Linked DNA regions of Homo sapiens: regions 2, 3 and 4 are each linked to region 1. Evidence: fine-mapped expression QTL. A gene starts in region 1. Each other region holds a variant in brackets. All regions are shown on one strand. Distances are between the middles of the regions.

Region 1 (5,000 bases):
TAAGATTCCAGGATATTATTAAAGCAATAATGTAACCCTTATTCATGCATCTAAGAACCTAGTCTAACTGGAAAGGCAACACAAAAAGTAGAAAATAAGCAGAAAGATCTCTGAGATAGCAAACCAAATGGCAATAAGTGTATGCACAGAAAAGAGCCTCTCACTCAGAACCTATATTCTCTTATTTAACCTGAAATTCTAACAGGGTTCATTTCCTTCCTAAAACTGCAGTGGATTAAAAGTAACAAAACAGAAACTATTACAGAGAAGCACTCTGAAAGCCTCCTAGATGCGTACACAGGAGAGCAGAGGCAAGAACTAAAAACAATCAAAAGAGCAGTTAGTGCAAAAACAGAAAACCCTAAACACTCACTAAGTAGGATAAGCTCAGACTCTCTCCGCCCTGGATCCTGACCCTCCACGAATCAGTTCCTCACAAACCACCTCAGCCATCTTTCAGGAACGGAAATGTGATCCTGCTTGCCTGCTCCCAACTCTTGGCAACCCTTCATTGACTTTCCAGGCTCATAAGACAAAATCATTATTTAAAAACGGTCCACAAAGTCTGCCTGCCTCTCCAGTCTCATCTCACTTCGGCCCCACCTGCTTGGGCCTTTTCACATTTCCTTCCCTTTACCTGGAAGTGTCTCAATGCTGCCTCTCCTGGGGGATCTGAAATGTCATTTCCTTAGAAAGCCTTACCTAGTCCCAGAGTCCACATTAGGTTTTCCCGTGCACCTTAGCGCCTTTGCAGTTGAGAATTTATCACAGTTGCACTTAGTCTGATTGTTTTATTTGTTTGTTTGTTTTTTGAGACACCAAGGCTGGAGTGCAGTAGCGCGATCTCGGCTCACTGCAACCTCCGCCTCCCGGTTCAAGCATTCTCGTGCCTCAGCTTCCCGAGTAGCTAGGATTACAGGCGTGCACCAACACGCCCGGCTAATTTTTGTGTTTTTAGTAGAGACAGGGTTTCGCCATGTTGACCAGGCTGATCTCAAACTTTTGGCCTAAAGTGATCTGCTGGACTCAGCCTCCCAAAGTGCTGGGATTACAGGCGTGAGCCACCGCGCCTGGCCAGTCTGATAGTTGAATACCTATTTCCTTCAGCGTACTGTGAGCTCTGGTGGAAAAGGACCATGTCTGGCTCGTACATATGCCAAATAAGTATTCACCGGAAAAAATATGAGTAATGTCACAGGACAAGCAGACATCTTCCTAGTATATAATTTTAAATTTTACTAAAATCTTTTTGAGAAGGTAGCTATTGTTTTATTAAAGCAAAAAAAAATTACAAAGTACAATGCAAAATTCATATGAATTTTAAAGCTAAAACAAGACTTTCAGAATGCTTTAGGCTACACCCCCAGACTTCTCTAGAGACGTGCTTAAAATAATATGGAAACACGGTGTGGTAAAAGATCCATTTCCCAAGGGATCTGGATAACCAGCGCTTATCTTCATTTTACTGGAGAATACATGTGCGGAGAGGGCTTTGCAAACTACAAGGCTTTGTGCATTATAACATTATTATGGAAAAATCTGTGTTTCTAAGAGGGGGAATGATTTAGCTATTGCATTGCCAATTACAGGTGGGGCTGGCGCCAGAGCCCAGGCCTCCCGGGGCCTGTCTAGCCCACAGCTTTTCATTAATGCACAGCACTTGCCACCTGGTCCCTGCCGCAAAGGGTGGCCTCTCGAGTTAGGAGCCATATCTAGGGCGGATGGCCTGTGCTAGGCTCAAAGACACTTAAGTTCCGATCAACCAGAACTGAGGAGCGGGTAGGAAAACCAAGCCGAGCCTTCCTCGGCTTCACAATCCGCAGGCTCTCCGCTGTCCCCGGCGGGACTCGGCAGTTCCCCTGGAGGGCTGCAGCCCGGCTGTCTTCGCTCAGGCCCAAGCCCGCGCGGCTCTCCCCCTGGCGGAGAACTCGCAGGACTGCGACGCATTCCGGAGACGCCGTCAATCTCCGAATTTGAAGCGCAGGCGATATCTAAGGGGCCTGGGAAGCGGGAAAGCTCGGGAGTCACTCCGGAGAGAACACCCTGCAGGAGTCGACGCGGCTGCCTGGCTTCGTGGTCCTGCAGCGTGGCCCGTTGCTTCGCGCAGAGGTTGGCCACAGCTGCTGGCTAGGAAACTGGGGACCACCTGGGTTGCCACCGAGGAGGGTGGAGGCCCCCGTCAGTCCCCTCGGGGATGCAGCTGCATTTTCCCCTCCTTGCGTCCGGCCGGGAGCCAGAGGATGGGGCTGTGGAACCCATTCCGAAAGGCAGGGCGGGCCCTTCGGAACCCGGACGCGAGGGAAGGCGAGAGGCGCGGGTGTGCCGCACGCCCACCGGCGCCGGGGCAGGGGCGCTGCAGCCGGCGGCCCACGGAGGACATCAGCGGTGCCGCCGCCGCCGCCGCGGGCTCGCGGGCCGCGCGCGCACGCGAGTGGGCGAGGGAGGCAGGGGCGCTACTAGCAGGCGGCGTGCGCGCGCGCGCTCCCCCGCGCCCTCCCTCGCAGGCCCGCCCGGCCCCAGCGCGCGTCACGAGGGGCCAGCGAGCTAGCTGGAGGGCGGGAGGGAGGGTGGGGAAAGGGGGTGGGGCCGCGAGACCGGAGGGGTCCGAGCAGCGGCTGCGGAGCCGGAGCTGGGCGAGGGCGGCTGCGGTCCCGGCGGCGGCGGCGGCGGCGGCAGCTGCGGCGGGAGAAGATGGTGGCGCTGGAGGCAGCAGCGGCTGGAGCGGAGCTTTATTCCCAGGCTTGGCACCAGCGCTGTCACTAGCGCCGCCTGCTCCCGCGGGCCCGCGGACCCAGCTGTCAGGCAAGGTACCACAGCCAGGGAGGGGTGGGTGAGAAGGGGTGCCCGGCGCTGATGCGGCCCCCGACGGAGCCCGGGTCCTCGCCAAAGGGCGCCCCCGGACGCGAGAGGGGCTGCCTGGAACAATAGTGCGGAGGAGCGGAGGCAGCAGGCGACATCCAGGAGGCAGTGCCTGGAACCATCAGCTAGCGAGGCGGGGGAAGGCGGCGTTGCGAGCGAGACGCCTGGGGTCCGGTGCCCGCTGAGATGCCGGGCTTCGGGCGCAGCAGGCGGGCCTGATGACAGTCATGGCAGGAGTGAGTGTGTGAGAGTGTGTGTGTAAAAGGTACAGCAGAGGGGATGGGGTGGCGGACGGAGGTGTTGGGGGGTGACATTTCCAGGAATCCCCGCTAGGACCCCCTCATCTCTCGGCTGACTCTCCTGGAGAAAGAATGTGATGATGGAAACGGTGAGGTGGGCAGGATGCACTTGGTGTGTGAAGTGTGGAGGGAGGCAGTGGGATAGGGGCCGGTTTGTAAAATCCTGTATATGTGTGTGTACGCGTGTGGTTGCATCCACGTTCCCCAAACTGCGCCCCAAATCCAGAGATCTGCCGCTGCCCTTACTTGATGTCACCGGCTAAGACTGTGGGACAGTGTTTGTTATTTTGACCCTGCAACTCTGAGCACAGTGTCTGTTCTGCTCCTGCGTGTGGATGGCCCAGTGTAGGGATTCTCGCTTCCCCTTCCTCTGGCCTCATGACATGGGGATGTGGAAGTGAGCATGTTGCTTTGAGGCACATGGCAGGGAAATAGGATAACCGTTACACATTCTGGGCTTGCTAATGTACCTGGTTTTGAAGGGGCCTTCCATCCTGTGATACTACTTCTCTCCTTAGCACCTGTTCCATAAGGGTCTTGTACTCCCTGACTGTGCAGTTTCTATTGTTTTTCTCTTGTCTGACCAGAAGGAGAAGGATGTTGAATGATCAGATTCCTCTTCCTGTCCCCACAACTTTCAATGCTAGCTAGACCTTCTCCTTCCACATTTAAGCACTGAAAACCTTATGGCTAGAGGATGGATGGTCTTTGTGTTGGTTCTTTTAGAATGAACTCTGGAGGTGTATACGTATAGAGAGATGCGGTGGGGCGGGGGGCGGTCTTTTAAAAAGAAGAAAAATATCACACGGAGAAATGTTTGGTGCCCACTTGGTCAGCATCACACAGCCAGGGCGTTTTCCTCAGGAAACAGGATACTTTATTTCTACTGCTGGTGACATCCACTCTCCCAGCTGTCACAATAGCTAGGTGGTGCCGTGTATCATTTGGAAACTGAAATCTCCTGAGACCCACAGCGATGGGGTCCCAGGTCAGTAAAGTCCCTGCTTTCCTACCTGATAGAGCCCACTAGTAGGGAATTTGGAAAAATGTCAGGCTGGCAACAACTCACCCAGTGGGAACAAGGACACAGAAATGCATCCAGAGTCTATGGCTGTTTAATTGTCTCTGCGTGGTAAAGATAGGTGTGTGTAGGTAGGGTTGGGTAGAGGTAGGCAGGGAGATGGCATATTCATGTGTATCCAGGGCAGTGTGATTCCCCCTCACCTATGTTTCTCCTGCGGTATTCATAGGAATGAGTGCACTTTACACTTAATATCTCGACACTTCTTTATTAAAATGTTGTATGACTAGCTTAATCTGCTTAGGACATGTTTTAGTCATAACACCTTAAATTCTACTGCATTGTCGGAATCCAAACTGGCTGCCCGGTTCTCTTCGAAAAGCCCGTAGCAGTCATGGCTACACAAGTAAATATACAACATGTTGGCACCAGAGATTTATTTTTCTTTTTTAAAATTTTTGTTTTGCTTTCTTTTATGGGCAAAGATTGCATGATATCGTTGTGAAAATAATAAAACTAGGGCTATCCACATATGCTTTTTTTTCTTCCCATGTATCTTATTTAATGATATATAGACAAGGTGCTCTTGAAGCTGTCTATGTAAAGTAAATTTCCCCATGTTCTTCAAGTCAAGCCTTCTAAGATTTTAATGTGAGGTTGGTTGTTGGCTGTCATCCAAGATTTAAGGATAGATTTATAAAAATGAATTTTGAATCTTAGTTCTTTACTCTCTTATTTGTTATGCCAAATGTCTTTCTGAGAAAAGTACTTAGGGAATTTAAAAGCCATTCTAAGAGATTTTGGTTTAAAAAAAAGTCATC
Region 2 (5,053 bases), 200 kb after region 1:
CAGTTGATCGCATCGGCTCCTGAGGCTTCTGCATTCTTCACGTAGTTCTCGAGCCTTGGTTTTCAGCTCCATCAGCTCCTTTAAGCACTTCTCTGTATTGGTTATTCTAGTTATACATTCTTCTAAATTTTTTTCAAAGTTTTCAACTTCCTTGCCTTTGGTTTGAATGTCCTCCCGTAGCTCAGAGTAATTTGATCGTCTGAAGCCTTCTTCTCTCAGCTCGTCAAAGTCATTCTCCATCCAGCTTTGTTCTGTTGCTGGTGAGGAACTGCGTTCCTTTGGAGGAGGAGAGGCGCTCTGCGTTTTAGAGTTTCCAGTTTTTCTGTTCTGTTTTTTCCCCATCTTTGTGGTTTTATCTACTTTTGGTCTTTGATGATGGTAATGTACAGATGGGTTTTTGGTGTGGATGTCCTTTCTGTTTGTTAGTTTTCCTTCTAACAGACAGGACCCTCAGCTGCAGGTCTGTTGGAATACCCTGCCGTGTGAGGTGTCAGTGTGCCCCTGCTGGGGGGTGCCTCCCAGTTAGGCTGCTCGGGGGTCAGGGGTCAGGGACCCACTTGAGGAGGCAGTCTGCCCGTTCTCAGATCTCCAGCTGCGTGCTGGGAGAACCACTGCTCTCTTCAAAGCTGTCAGACAGGGACATTTAAGTCTGCAGAGGCTACTGCTGCCTTTTGTTTGTCTGTGCCCTGCCCCCAGAGGTGGAGCCTACAGAGGCAGGCAGGCCTCCTTGAGCTGTGGTGGGCTCCACCCAGTTCGAGCTTCCAGGCTGCTTTGTTTACCTAAGCAAGCCCGGGCAATGGCGGGCGCCCCTCCCCGAGCCTCGCTGCTGCCTTGCAGTTTGATCTCAGACTGCTGTGCTAGCAATCAGTGAGACTCCGTGGGCGTAGGACCCTCTGAGCCAGGTGCAGGATATAATCTCGTGGTGCGCGGTTTTTTAAGCCGGTCCGAAAAGCGCAATATTCGGGTGGGAGTGACCCGATTTTCCAGGTGCGTCCGTCACCCCTTTCTTTGACTCAGAAAGGGAACTCCCTGACCCCTTGCACTTCCCAAGTGAGGAAATGCCTCGCCCTGCTTCGGCTGGCGCACGGTGCGCGCACCCACTGACCTGCGCCCACTGTCTGGCACTCCCTAGTGAGATGAACCCAGTACCTCAGATGGAAATGCAGAAATCACCCATCTTCTGTGTCGCTCACGCTGGGAGCTGTAGACTGGAGCTGTTCCTATTCGGCCATCTTGGCTCCGCCGCCCCCTGCTGTGGAATTCTTAAGCATCTCTGTGGCTCACCTGAGGATTCCTTTCATCTCCCAAGATTTCAGAAGCACACAACAATGTTTGGCTATAGGCTGGGGAGTGTTTTCCGGGTCTGTATCAGTCCCATCCCTGTGCTTGCTTGTTTTATTTGCCCATCCATTCAGAAGATGTTTATGGAGCACCTTCTGTGTACACTGACCTGGGAGCTTCCTATACACGTCTAGCAGGGCCTGCCTGCACAGGGAGCTGGGGTCCCATCAGCCCAGGCAATACCACACCCAACCAGGCCATTCTCCCTGAGCCTATTTTTCTAAGCCTTATTTTCCGATACACCGTTTGACAAAGGATTTTTGAACTGTTCTAAGAGCATCCAGGGTAGTGTTTGGATGTTAAAATGCTGAAATGTCTCTGAATTTTCAATAGCCTGTAGACTAAATCAGACAAAATATTTGAAATCTGAATTGACTAGGAAAATACAGGTGGTATGGTTTCTAGCCATCAAAATCAGGCCCAGCTACCTCTTTAAAAATGTGTGTTTTAATTTTTACTTTTTCATTTGGGGCAGGCAATTTTATAAGACATTCGGTACCCTAAATATTTGGCTTCATCAGTAAGAAAAAAATGTTTTAAACATGTTTGTGTAATATCCTTAGCTCAATTCATTTAGGATTTTTTAATTTCAACCTTTTCTGTATTTTCTTTCAACATTTGGCCTAAGGGGAAAAACGGCCCATAGCTATGAAAGCTCCTTTGAAAGCATGGCAGGACTTGAAAAAGAAAGCTTGAAAACCACAAGTGTTTTATGTACAGTTGGCAGCTCCTTTTTAAGAGGTTTTCTCCCCACTGCAGTGTCTGTTCGATTGTGTTCTGCTTTGCTTCTCTCTCCCGGCCCCTTTCCCCCAGCCAAGTGTCTGCCGAGTCTCTCAAGTTCTCACTGTGTTTCCTCTTGCTGTGTTCTAGTCTCCGTCTCCTGGCAGCTCCTCCCCCTTGGGTGCAGAGTCATCAAGCACATCTCTTCACCCCAGTGACCCTGTGGAAGCGTCCACTAATAAAGAGGTAGGGTGCTGTTTTGTTACCAAAGCCATTGGGCCATTTTGCTTTACTCTAATACTGTTCTGTGCTTCCTAATACAGCATCCTACAGCGCTCCTGACCCACATTACCCTGGTGAGAACAATCCTGATTTCTCCTCTCCAGTGTGCAGTTCACCTGTTAAAGCCATGTCATCCAGTTTGATAGCCACTGGCTGCAGGTGCCTAATTAATGAATAAAATGAAAAGTTTATTTCCTCAAGCACAGTAGCCACATTTCAAGTGCTCGGACAGGGTGGATTACAGAGCATTTGCATCACTGCAGGAAATTCTGTTGAACAGCACTTGACCTCAGACACCAAAAACTCGACGTACAGCATCTTTCCTCCTGGCGTTACATGCCTGCTGATGCCATGGGCTTGCAGTTGCTGTGTGCTTTGGGAAATGTGTTAGTTTCTTAAATACCCTTTATTTCAGGCCCAAATGAGATATCTTTCGTAAGAATAGAG[T/C]GGCCATACATTCCCAGTTTACCTAGGGTGTGGTTCCAGTTCACACCTGTTGTCCAGGCAGCCCATCTTATGAGCGCCCTTCTCTCTTGCTGGTGCAGTGCCGCCTGCGAGAACTTTCCACGGTGCTGGAAATGTTCCACTTCTGCTCTGTCCACTATGGTAGTCATTAGCCTCATGTGCCTGTCAAACCCTGGAAATGTGGCCAGTGTAACTGAGGAACTGAAGTTTTCATTTTATCCCATTTTAATTAACTTAAATAGCCACGTGTGGCTGCAGACTGCCAGACAGTGCAGCTCTAAAGTATCCCTTTTGGACAACAAATTCTGTGGTCGCCTTGCTTATGTGGAGCATTTCAGTGAGAAGATGCTGCTTTCTCCCATTGAGGTGTCTGGGTCTGAGAAAGGGCAGCCCCAGAGGGGAGACACTGCCTTCCCCCGTACCCAGGGTCCTTTTACACCTAGTGAACTGCCACCCACACCTGCTAATGAGCCAACATCAGGTAAATGTTGGTCTGCGCCATAATCTGTGTGTGGGCTCAGCTCACTCTAAATATAGCTGCTCTCTCATCAACACTGAGGAGATGTGTTAAAGAGGTAAACCACATGATGAACGATGGTTTCCTTTTCCCTCATTTTGCTGATAATTTTATGTTAAATGCAATGAAAAAGAAATCTCTGTTTAAACTGAGTGGCAGATCGCTTTTAAAGGGAGTCTTAGTTAAAATTTACCCTTAAGGCACCCTTGAATACCATATATTTGCCATTAAATATTTACACAAAGGAAAAGTATTTTTTATTAATCTGTTCATATTAAACCAAACAAACAAACATAGACCTTCTCTGAAATGACACCAACATTAGAATTTAGACTAGAAATATACTTTGGTCTCCTCTGGTCTTGAGCCTCAGACACTTGGCCATTGGGAGCACAAGTGACAAGGGCACAGTTTCTGCTGTTCCCACCGTTCCACAGTTTGCTTCATTCTTATATCACATGGTTGGGTGAGAACAAATAGTAAGAAGAAAAGAAGGACAGGTGCCCTGATGATAACAGTCATGAGCACTATCGTTTCTTGAGCATTGACAATGTTCCAGGAACTGGGCTGAGAAAAATCACAGATAGTGTCTCATTTAATTCTTAAAATAATTCTGTGAGGTAGGTATCACTGTCCTCATTTGCTGGTTGAAAAAGCTAAGAGGTTGAATAACTTACCTGAGATTGTAGAGCTCACAAGTGGTCAGCCAGGATTCAAATCCAGAACTCATGGGAACCCGTGCTCTTAACTGCCAAGATCTGCCACTGCTGGAGTAGAAAGTGTTTGCAGGTCACAGACTACATGGACAAGGTACCTTGTCTGTCATTGTTCCAGTTGTCCAATTGTGCCTCCAAGTTCTGCACGAGTCGATTTGTGTGACCCCCAAACCCAAACCCCAAAGATCTTAGCCTTTAGCTTTTTAAATGCAACTTTATTTATTTATTCTTGAAAGTTAAGGATCAACTGATGTTCATCTCAGTCCACATGTGAAATAAAGGGCTAACCAGACATCTAAATATTCAGCATTTGATTATGCATTAGATATAATAAGGCAAATTTGTTAGTTTCTCAGTTCCTACAAGACTTGGCTCATGTTTCTATATATCCTTAGAAATGATGATGAAAATCCTATTTGTGTGTAATAATTAGAGATTCTTTCATTTCACAAAACTCTTTTTAAAAAAATTTACTACCCCAGAGACTAAGAAAGCTAGTCATGAGCTCATGCATAGAGAATAAGTGAATGTACCAAATGCCCTCTGTTGCAGCTTTTTTTTTAAAGATGGTAAACTTTATTTTGCCAAATTATTTTTTTCAAACTTATCTTTTTTTTAATTTTTTTAATTATACTTCAAGTTTTAGGGTACATGTGCACAACATGCAGGTTAGTTACATACGTATACATGTGCCATGTTGGTGTAGCTCTTAATAAAACTGCAGCTTTTAGAGCTATAGACCAAAGTAATTCTTTTGTAGCTTCTGCTAAAATCTGGACACTGTCTAGCATTCAGAAAAGTATCAAAATAGAGCAAGAAAATGTGAATTGACTTCTTAGATATACCTGGAGGCTAAGCAATTCTGATTAAACAAACTCTCATTACCCCAGGCTATAGTTACTTGGGACAAGGGTAGGGAAATGGTTGGGAAATAATAACTTAAAAGTTTTAGGCCCCTATGAAGATGCTAGCTTCCATCTGCATACCATGAAGTTATGAGGGTTTTTTTCTT
Region 3 (5,053 bases), 170 kb after region 1:
AATCCACAGTAAAGTGTCATTTCTGTCAGTGGAGAATAATGCTCTAGGAGACTTTAGTTGTCAATAACAACAACAAAATGAGACGTTTTTCTATGAACTGTGAGAACCTAATGCAACCGGAGTAATTTTTTTAAAGATTTAATGATTTTACTGGTACACCTTTAAAATGAAAAGGCTTCACCCTGAAATCCCATTTGAAGAACAAATGATTCATTTCAATCAAGGAAAAAAAAACAAAAAGAGATGGGAGAATGTTTGCTTTGATCTCACCACCTGGATTGGAAGTATTGCCTCCAATTATTTTAGCTTGTCTTTAGAGTTTCACCTGTCGGTTCAGCTCTAGGCAAGATGTGTTGCCTGGCAGGTGTCTCCCCCACTGACATCAGACCATCACCATCTAGAAATCACCAGAGCAAAACTTGTCTGGTGATCTGCACACCAGAAGGCACGTTTTCCAGTTACTGTGTGTTCTGTGGAATAAAAGAAACTGATGGAGAAGATTGATCTTTTTTAACCCTCTGGGCTCCAATTTTTTTCACTTTGCCTGACCCCTCTCCCAAGAGGAATCTTTCTCAACTTTTTGATGGATTGTCTCACCAGACAGTATATATGTGAAACTGTGCCAAGAAGTGATGGGACAAACAACAGGGAAATAAATGGACGATTTAGCTAGAGAGAATTTTGTTGTCAGTTGCTAGTCAGAGTTGCAGCTCATAGGCCACAGTTCGGGTGTCTGACATGCTTGCTGAATAAGTGTATGCTCAATAAACTGCCCAGTAGTCTTTAGAAAAATTGTGTCCTCTGCCCCGACTATGCACTCTTTAGAGACAATCTCACTCTGTGACCGAGGCTAGAGTGCAAGGATACAATCCTAGCTCACTGCAGCCTCACACTCCTGGGCTCAAGGAATCCTCCTGCCTCAACCTACCTACTAGCTAGGGCTACAGGTGCATACCATCATGCCCAGCTAGTGTGTGTGTGTGTGTGTGTGTGTGTGTGTGTGTGTGTGTGTGTGTGTGTTTTGTAGAGACAGAGTCTTGTTATGTTGCCCAGGCTGGTCTCAAACTCCTGGCCTCAAGCATTGGCCTCTCAAAGTGTCATATTACAGGCATGAGCCACCATGCCCAGCCACTCATATTTTCTGTGATACGTGTACTGGGGCCATATTGGAGAAGAAGGGAAGGTGCTGGGAGAGGAACAGATATATCATAGATAATTGAATTTCATATGTAACCCAGTTGTATCCTGGAGCCCATGTTGTCCTGGGAGTTATGAAATGTGATTTGAGTACAAACATGATCATCTTTAAAATGAAAAATACTTCCATTACAAGTGTAACTGGCAACATGTTCTGAGTCCAAAAATGTAGTTTCTCAGTCCACTTGTTTTGAAACACAGTCTTCGCTGACTGCTTTCTTAAGAGCGGCGATAAGAGAGGAGGATTTCTGTTTAGACACAGGCCACTTCACTCCCCTGAAGAGTTCCACTTGCAGTTTTTCTCCTGTTGTTTCTCATATTGAGACAACAGACATTCAGCTTGACATGCCTAGCTGACCTCTTGGTCAGACCCTACCCGTGGGACACCAAAAAGTGAGTAAACAAGTCTGGTAATGGATTGAAGGAGAATTGGAGTCAGTCTGAACATTTTGGCCCCAGTTTACCCGGAAGGAATAGCTGAAAATAGACTTTTTGTGACCTGGGAGAATTATGAAATGCGATTTGGCTATAAATGTGATCATCTTTAAAATGAAAAATGCTAAATGTCTTTATGCTTCTCTGGACTGGCCTCTACCCCATGCTTGTAATCATGCGGATCTCGCCTCTATCCAGGTCACATTCCGATTAGATAAAGTCCGGGCTTCGCTCTTTAAACATAGATTTCAAGGCCCCAGACTTCTTGATTAGAGCCTCTGGAGGTTGGGTCTTGGCACGGGTGTTAATAAGATTCAGTCAAAATTGGTAAGTGCTAGCTTAAGCTGTGGACCAGAGTTTAACACTCAACTCTTTAGGATCTCATTTTCCGCTTTTCTTGCGTGAGTTAACCTGTTGCCTCTGTAATTCACTGTC[G/A]GTGTCTCATCGTTCTCCTGTATCTCTCTCAGAGCAAGTCACACAGATGCGCTGCTCAGAGTGTCCATCGTATGTAAATATTTGGCTCACAGTCGATCTGCTGCAGTTACCTTGAGTTTGTCACCTGCTTTCCTCCCAGCCTTCAGTTTCCTCATCAGTAAAATGAGTTAATCAGGTTTATGTCCCAGGGAAGCTGTGAGAGAAAATGGTTTTGCAGATATCGAGTCCTATATGGAAATGTGAAACAAGAATCACAAGTTTGTTGTGCCAGTTACATTTGGAAGTCAAAGCTCACTTAACATTTGGGGTTGGTTACTGGCGATCTGAATTAGGGGGCTGGCCTTTAGTAGCCCTTCCTCACCCTCTCTAGGCTAGTGTTTCCTTTCTGCTGTCCTCAGCATTCAGATCCCCCACTGGGCTGCCCATCCTGGTCAGGCACTCAGGCGACCCTAGTTCTCAGCTTCCACCTTAAGCAGCATTATACCGTCAGCCTTTCCTTCCAGGGTTGGTCTGATTAAATCAAACTAAACTGCTAATTAGTGATAATGGCAACATGCACCGCCCCTCCAGATAACATTTACCTTTTATTGGCATTCTACTCCTGATTTCAGAGACCACTGGAGAAAGTATTTTGAAGCAGGAAACCATTTCAGCACTAATGCTTCTTAATCAGAAACCAGCCACTCTCCTGCTGAGATGGAGGTATTGTCAAAATCCTGAGAAGTAAGGGCTTGGTGTGAACTCTTGCCCTGATCATGTGTACTTTTACATCCACTTTTTTTTTTTAATTTCAAGAAAAATGTTGCAGTGAGGGTGTAGGAGCTTCATGGCTTCATCTGGGGCCTTGATTGCCTTGATGTTACCCTCTCCCTGCCCTGAATTCAGCATGCCACCGACATGGATTTTTTTTTTTTTTGGACCGTTGCTAGGAAACTACTGACCAAGGTCAAGTGCACATGCTAATTCATTAAGACTTGTTAGAGCCTCTTATCCTGTCGACCTTGCTGTTGTGTTGTCAAGCTTACAAGGGCGAGCGAAAAGAACTGTCTTGCTGCCAAAGGATGCCATTTTTTGTGAAGGATTCTTGTTAAGGTATTCTGAACTGAGAGATTTCCTCTTGCTGATTACACCTTGCAGAGTTCTGAACAGACAAAATTTTTCCAGGATCCGGTTAGCAAGGGATGAAGTTGAAATGGGATCTGAAATCAAGTAGACAGAATTTAGGATTAATATGTGTTCAGTTGGAACCCTATTTCCCCAAGTGGATCAATTCTTGGCTGGAATGTGATGTATTCCTAGGGAAGGGAAGAAGGGTGGTTCTAGGATAGTTAGCCCCAGTCTGTCTCCATTTGTGCTGTTAAGAGGAAGAAAACTCCAGGCATCCTTATCTCCGATTTTCCCTTACCTGCTGCAGAAGAGTATACATTCCAGTGTTGGCTCTAAAACCAACTTTGTTTTCTTATATGATCCAGACTGTTTAGAAAAATGGGGCTGGCATACCCTTTAAGTCAACATCCCAGAAGCTTATTCAGAAGCATAACCTTAGAACCAAAGGACCCGCTGCTGGGACAGCAGAAATGGAACCCAGTGTGTTTTCCAGGCAGACCTCAGAAAAGGATGGGAAACTTCTTACACAAGCAAATGGTATCAGAGGTATAAATGTGTTCTCAACCGTCTGCCATGCAAAGTGATTAAGCTGAGCTGTCATAGCTGTTTCTCTGCTGATACCTTTGTGTTTCATTGAACACTAGCTACATAAAGGAATAAGAAATATGGCCTCAAAGCTATGCTGTTCCTTATTTTGCCAGTGAACTACAGAGAGTTTGTGACTACTGTTCTAGGTCAAAAGTTGAAAGTGCATCTTACAATTTATCATCCACTCATTCAATAAACGTTGTTAGATCCTTCTATAGATCACGCACTGTGCAAGACCCCAGGGATACAGCAATGACAGATAGAGGCTCTGACTGACACAGACAGGCTCTGCTGGTGCAGAGTGTACAATCTAAGCTAGTCCTTTGTCAAGCCCCAAGCGAGACCTTCAAGCCTCCTCTGCTCTTAAGCCTTTCATCTGAATCCTTATTTAGTGTCTTAATTATCTATTGCTGTGTAACAAATTTCCCCAAAATTTAGTGGCATAAAACAACCTTCCTTGACTATCTCACAGTTTCTCTCCATTAGGGTCTCTTGGAGGCTGCCATCAGGGGGTCAGGTGGCCTGCAGTCATCTCAAGCTCACATGCTTGTGGGGCAGGACTCAGCTTCCCATGGGCATTGATGCTGAGGGCCTCAGTTCCCAGTTGACTGTTGGCCAGAGGTGTCCTCAGTTCTCTGCTACATGGGCTGTCTGACACTTGGCATCTTGCTTCATAAAGTATGCAGGATAAGAAGGTCATGGAGTCTGGTAGCAAGATGGAAGTCATGGTTTTTTGTAACCCAGTCACAGGGTGATATCCTATCACCTTTGCTGTATTTTATTGCTTAGAGTAAGTCACTCAGCCGTGCTCCCTCCCCAGGGAGGAGATTACCCAAGAGGCTGAATACCAGGAGGTGGAGATGATTGGGAGCCATCTGAGAACTCTGCCTTCCACATTTGGTATCTGTCATCGTTCCATGCCAGCAAAGAGCTACTGGGCTTCAAATTTAGGGCAGAGCAGCTGCTGGCCTTGTCCTCTCCCACTGACCTTGTCAACCATTCCGAACTCCTGGGCTGCATTTGTTTTGTTGTCTGGCTGAGATGAGGCAGATTTGCAGATCCCGAAGTGACCGATGGACGATGAAACCAAAGTGGCGTAAAAGGGAAGGTGTGTGAGAGCTAGCACAGAGATGGTGCAGGGGGCTATGTCAGAAAAAGCTGGGACTAGGGCAGGCTGTGGAAATGGAAAAGAGGAGGTGTTGTCCTGAAGAAAGAGCAGGTCCATGGTGGACTGCTCAGAAGGAGGAGTTTAACTTTATCCCCAAGGGACTGCCATTGTCAAAAGAATTTG
Region 4 (5,053 bases), 100 kb before region 1:
ATACCAGTAGATTTCAACTAAAAAAGTGACAGGCCACAGATTCTATCTAAGAAGTTCTTAGGAAAACCTAAAGATAACAAGGAAGAAAGATACAAGTACACCTGAGGAAACTGAATCCACTGGCGCTTACGGTTTCAGCAAACATTAAACACAGCCCAGCTTCTGGCCACATTACCATTATAACTTTTCTATTATCCCATACATTATACGAAGTTTTTAGCAAAAGATTACAAGGCAAGCTAAAGGGCAAGAAAAAGCAGTCTGAAGAGACAAAGCAAGAACCTTCATCAAAGCTACGTCCAGGGGAAGGGGAGAGTGGAGGAGAAGAATAATGAAAATATTCTGGCTGGGTGCAGTGGCTTAAGCCTGTAATTCCAGAACTTTGGGAGGCTGAGGCGGGTGAATCACCTGAGGTCAGGAGTTCGAGAACAGCCTGGCCAACATGGTGAAACCCCGTCTCTACTAAAAATACAAAAATTAGCCAGGCGTGTTGGCAGGCGCCTGTAGTCCCAGCTACTCGGGAGGCTGAGGCAAGAAGAATTGCTCAAACTCGGGAGGCAGAGGTTGCAGTGAGCCAAAATCGCCCTGCTGCACCCTAGCCTGGGTGACAGACGGTGAATCTGTCTCAGGAAAAAAAAAGAAAAAGAAAAAAAGAAAACAAAATATTCTGGAATTAGTGGTAATGGTTGTATAATCTTGTTAATACACTAAAAACCACTAAATTACATGCTTCAAAGGGTGAATTTTATGTTTTGGGACTATCTCAATTTAAAAAATAATTTTAAAAAGACTTACATAATTATTTATAACTTTTTACAAAATGAAGGTTTTCCTATATTCTCCACGCTCACACAATTGGTGAAAAAATAACATCGAATTAGAGAATAAAATATATCTACGGTAATTGTGAAAATTGATGACAAATTTTAAGAATTATGATTCTCATTACATTAATTCTTTGCTACTCATAACATGAACCATAAAAAAGTAAATACATTGTCTCTTTTTTTCATTCAATACATATATACTTAATATCTGCCTCATATAAGGAACTGTACCATGTTGTTGGGTTACAAAAATGAATCTGACAATGACTTCAACTTAGAAAAAGATATTAGAGATTTACAAAAATAACTGTAAAACAAGGTCATATATGAAAAGTGCCAAACAAAGGCTATAAAAGTACAGTGGAGTCCAAGATTATAGGAAAGCATTTCTTTTTTCTTTTTTTTTTTTCATTGTTATACTTTTTAAGTTCTGGAATATATGTGCAGAACGTGCAGGTTTGTTACATAGGTATACATGTGCCATGGTGGATTGCTGCACCGATGAACCTATCATCTGCATTAGGTATTTCTCCTTATGCTATCCCTCTCCTTACCCTCCACACCACGACAGGCCCTGGTGTGTGATGTTCACCTCCCTGTGCCCATATGTTCTCATTGTTCAACTCTCAATTATGAATGAGAATCAATGGTGTTTGGTTTTTTGTTCCTGTGTTAGTTTGCTTAGAATAATGGTTTCCAGCTTCATCCATGTCCCTGCAAAGGACATGAACACATTTTTTTTTATGGCTGCATAGTATTCCATGGTGTGTATGTGCCATATTTTCTTTATCCATGGTGTATATGTGCTACATTTTCTTTATCCAGTCTATTGTTGATGGGCATTAGGGTTGGTTCCAAGTCTTTGCTATTGTGAATAGTGCTGAAATAAACATATGTGTGCATGTATCTTTATAGTAGAATGATTGATAAACCTTTGGGTACATACCCAGTAATGGGATTGTTGGGTCTATTTCTGGTTCTAGATCCTTGAGGAATCACCACACTGTCTTCCATAATGGTTGAACTAATTTACACTCCCACCAATAGTGTAAAAGCATTCCTATTTCTAGGAGAGCATTTCGAACTGAGGTGATTAATGAAGACTTCATGGGAAAGGTGGCAATGGAATTGGGTCTTTGTTTGTTCAGCTGACTCAGCACTACATTTGCAGTGCTTACTATATTCAGGAACTGTACCAGGTACCAGGGAAACAACAATAAAGATGAAATGGATTATCTCATTTTGTTATGTGATAAAACCCAGGAGTGTAGAAGCATATATATGTGTGTGTGTGTGTGTGTGTGCATTTATATATTTTTGTATAACTAAAACAATGTATAAGTTAATAAGAACACTCTTGAAGAATGAGCGGATTTCAACAAAGAAGCAAAAATGCTTTCAATGGCTCTAACTCTTCAGAATTTTTTATTTTTTATTTTTTATTTTTT[TG/G]AGACAGAGTCTTGCTCTGTCGCCCAGGCTGGAGTGCAGTGGTGCAATCTTGGCTCACTGCAACCTCTGCCTCCCGGGTTCAAGCGATTCTCCTGCCTGAGCCTCCCAAGTAGCTGGGATTACAAACACATGCCACCACAGCCAGCTAATTTTTGTATTTTTAGTAGAGATGTGGTTTCACAATGTTGGCCAGGCTGGTCTTGAACTCCTGACCTAGTGATCCGCCCACCTTGGCACTGCCAAAATATGGCCTCAAGGTTCCTCATGATTAGGCCTCTGACTAAATTCCAAGTGACTTCCTCTACTATTTCTTTATTACATTTATACATGTAGGTTATTCTACCCTTCCCTATTGTTTCCCATCCTTTCCTTTCATCCATCCATCCATTTAAGTACTCAGAGCCCACTATATTGCAATGCAACATACACAGTGGTACATAAAATAAACAGGAGAAATACAGTTCCAGCCCTTGTGAAATTTACACTCTGTAGATGGATAAAGATATGGAACTAATTAGACAACTGTTTAAATGCATTTGATATATAAAGGAGTCTATGAGAATATAATGAGGGCTTTTACTCCTTTATTACTTTGAGGGATTCAACTTTGTGTGCAGGAATTAGCCGGAAGTACCCTAGATATCTTGCTAGACACATGCATGACAGAGGATGGAAGATAAACCCTTAAAACATTCAAGGGCCTGCCACCTTAGTGAAGTTTCTAGGAGTCCATTAGTTGAGGCATGGCACATTTCTACCAAGGTGAAGGGCAAGTTGCTTCATCTTGCACACTCTACCACTGAGAAGGAGACACAAGGGCCACTTTGGATTCAAATTGTGACATATACCCTAGTTGAATGTTCTACTTTGAGTCACTTACTGAGTAACCCATAGATTTGAATGGATTCCAGAGCAACAGAAGCTTCTGTGGCAGCTCTAAGCTTCTACGCAAGCTGATCTTGGGCCACATGACTCAGCAGATTGAATGGTGCTGAAAGAGCACATTGAAATGTTCTAACAGTAGCAAATAAAAAATGCCATGGCAATACCCCTTGGGTTTTGGGGGAAAAGCCAACCCTTTTCGTTGATAAGCATTACACTTTTGAGAAACCGTTCTGGGGTTGCTATTGGGCCCCCAGGACTGAATATCTGACTAAGAAACACTAACTAGTCATGTGACATGAGCTTTCCATAGAGAGCTACGGTGTTACCTGACTCAGGACCACAATGCTGTAAATGAGATATACAAGATCAGGCTCAAACAGTTCCCAAAGACACAAGTTGCAAGAGTAAGTGACCCAGACACCTTCAGTATCAGTGGGTTCTGCATTCCTGGATTCAACTCAATGATCATCAAAAATATTCAGAAAAAATAAAAACATAATACAGATTAAAAGAATCAATATAGTATCACAACCATTTACATAGCATTTACATCTTATTAGGTATTTGAAGTAATCTAGAGATGATTTAAAGTATAGGCTGGGTGCGGTGGCTCACACCTATAATCCCAGCACTTGGGAAGCCAAGGAAGGTGGATCATCTGAGGTCAGGAGTTTGAGACCAGCTTGGCCAACATGGTGAAACCCCGTCTCTACTAAAAATACAAAAAATTAGCTGGAAGTAGTGGCACGTGCCTGTAATCCCAGCTACTTGGGAGGCTGAGGCAGGAGAATCGCTTGGATCCGGGAGGTGGAGGTTGTAGTGAGCCGATATTGCACCATTGCACTCCAGCCTGGGTAACAAGAGCGAAACTCCATCTCAAAAAAACCAAAAAACAAAATGAAAGCAAACTATATAGGAAGATGTGCATAGGATATATACAAAAATTGTGCCATTTTATATAAGCGACATGAGCATGTACAGATTTTGGTATCCACAGGGATCCTGGAAACAATCCTCCACAGATACTGAGGAATGACTGTACTTACTCCTATTGCATTGATATCTCTCCCTCGATCTACATATATGGCCTCATGGAGAATTCTCTATGACATGTGACTGAGGAAGAGAAAATTTGGGCCTCGTTTTGTTTCCAAACAGCTCTCCACAATATGTTGGTACTACCCAAAAGTGGATGGCTTTAGCATGACAGCCTCACTCAGAAATAGTCTTTAAAAACTGAGAAGGGAGATTCTCCAAGTAGGCAGAACTTCAGACTGTATATCTAGCAGTCCACTTAGACTAAAAAGAGACATGGCAGAGGAGTAGGTCAACATTGATTCATGGACAGTGGCTAACAGTTTGCTTAGATAGTCAGGGACTCTGGTATATTTATGTGACAGTTGATACTGAATGTCAACTTGATTGGATTGAAGGATACAAAGTATTGATCCCCTGGGTGTGTCTGTGAGGATGTTGCCAAAGGAGATTAATATTTGAGTCTGTGGGCTGGGAAAGGCAGACCCACCCTTAATCTGGTGGGCACAACCTAATCAGCTGCCAGCGAATATAAAGCAGGCAGGAAAAAAACTCAAAGGACAAGATGGGCCTAGCCTCCTAGTCTACATCTTTCTCCTGTGCTGGGTGCTTCTTGCCCTTGAACATCGGACTCCAAATTCTTCAGTTTTGGGACTCAGACTGGCTTCCTTTCTCCTCAGCTTCAGACAGCCTATTATGGGAGCTTGCGATCATGTAAGTTAATACTTAATAAACTCCTGTCTCTCTCAGTATATATATATATTAATAGGATATATTATATCCTATAGGATATAATATATCCTATTAGTTCTCTCCCTCTAAGAGAACCCTGACTAATACAATGTATGAACTAATTA

Evidence for each region. PIP is the estimated chance that this variant, and not a neighbour inherited with it, causes the effect. A credible set is the group of variants that fine-mapping cannot tell apart.
Region 2: its variant is the best candidate, but not a certain one, in a credible set for the expression of APBA1 in whole blood (TOPMed, PIP 0.86).
Region 3: its variant is the best candidate, but not a certain one, in a credible set for the expression of APBA1 in nasal epithelium (TOPMed, PIP 0.74).
Region 4: its variant is the best candidate, but not a certain one, in a credible set for the expression of APBA1 in whole blood (TOPMed, PIP 0.56).

What each region holds. Positions count from the first base shown.
Region 1 is chr9:69,669,960-69,674,959 of GRCh38, reverse strand. APBA1 (amyloid beta precursor protein binding family A member 1) reads left to right here and starts at 2,589. Exons shown (of 13, transcript NM_001163.4): 1 at 2,589-2,807. RefSeq lists silencers at 2,512-2,561, 2,742-2,821.
Region 2 is chr9:69,473,302-69,478,354 of GRCh38, reverse strand. It overlaps APBA1 (amyloid beta precursor protein binding family A member 1), which reads left to right. Exons shown (of 13, transcript NM_001163.4): 3 at 2,212-2,307. LOC124902178 (a long non-coding RNA gene) reads right to left here and starts at 4,092. Exons shown (of 2, transcript XR_007061570.1): 1 at 4,003-4,092. The variant T/C (reference allele first, on the strand shown) is at 2,791.
Region 3 is chr9:69,497,597-69,502,649 of GRCh38, reverse strand. The region is part of intron 2 of APBA1 (amyloid beta precursor protein binding family A member 1); the gene reads left to right. Among named protein-coding and RNA genes, the nearest start is that of APBA1, 170 kb to the left of the region's middle. The variant G/A (reference allele first, on the strand shown) is at 2,068.
Region 4 is chr9:69,770,385-69,775,437 of GRCh38, reverse strand. The region is part of intron 1 of LOC105376076 (a long non-coding RNA gene); the gene reads right to left. Among named protein-coding and RNA genes, the nearest start is that of PTAR1, 13 kb to the right of the region's middle. The variant TG/G (reference allele first, on the strand shown) is at 2,276.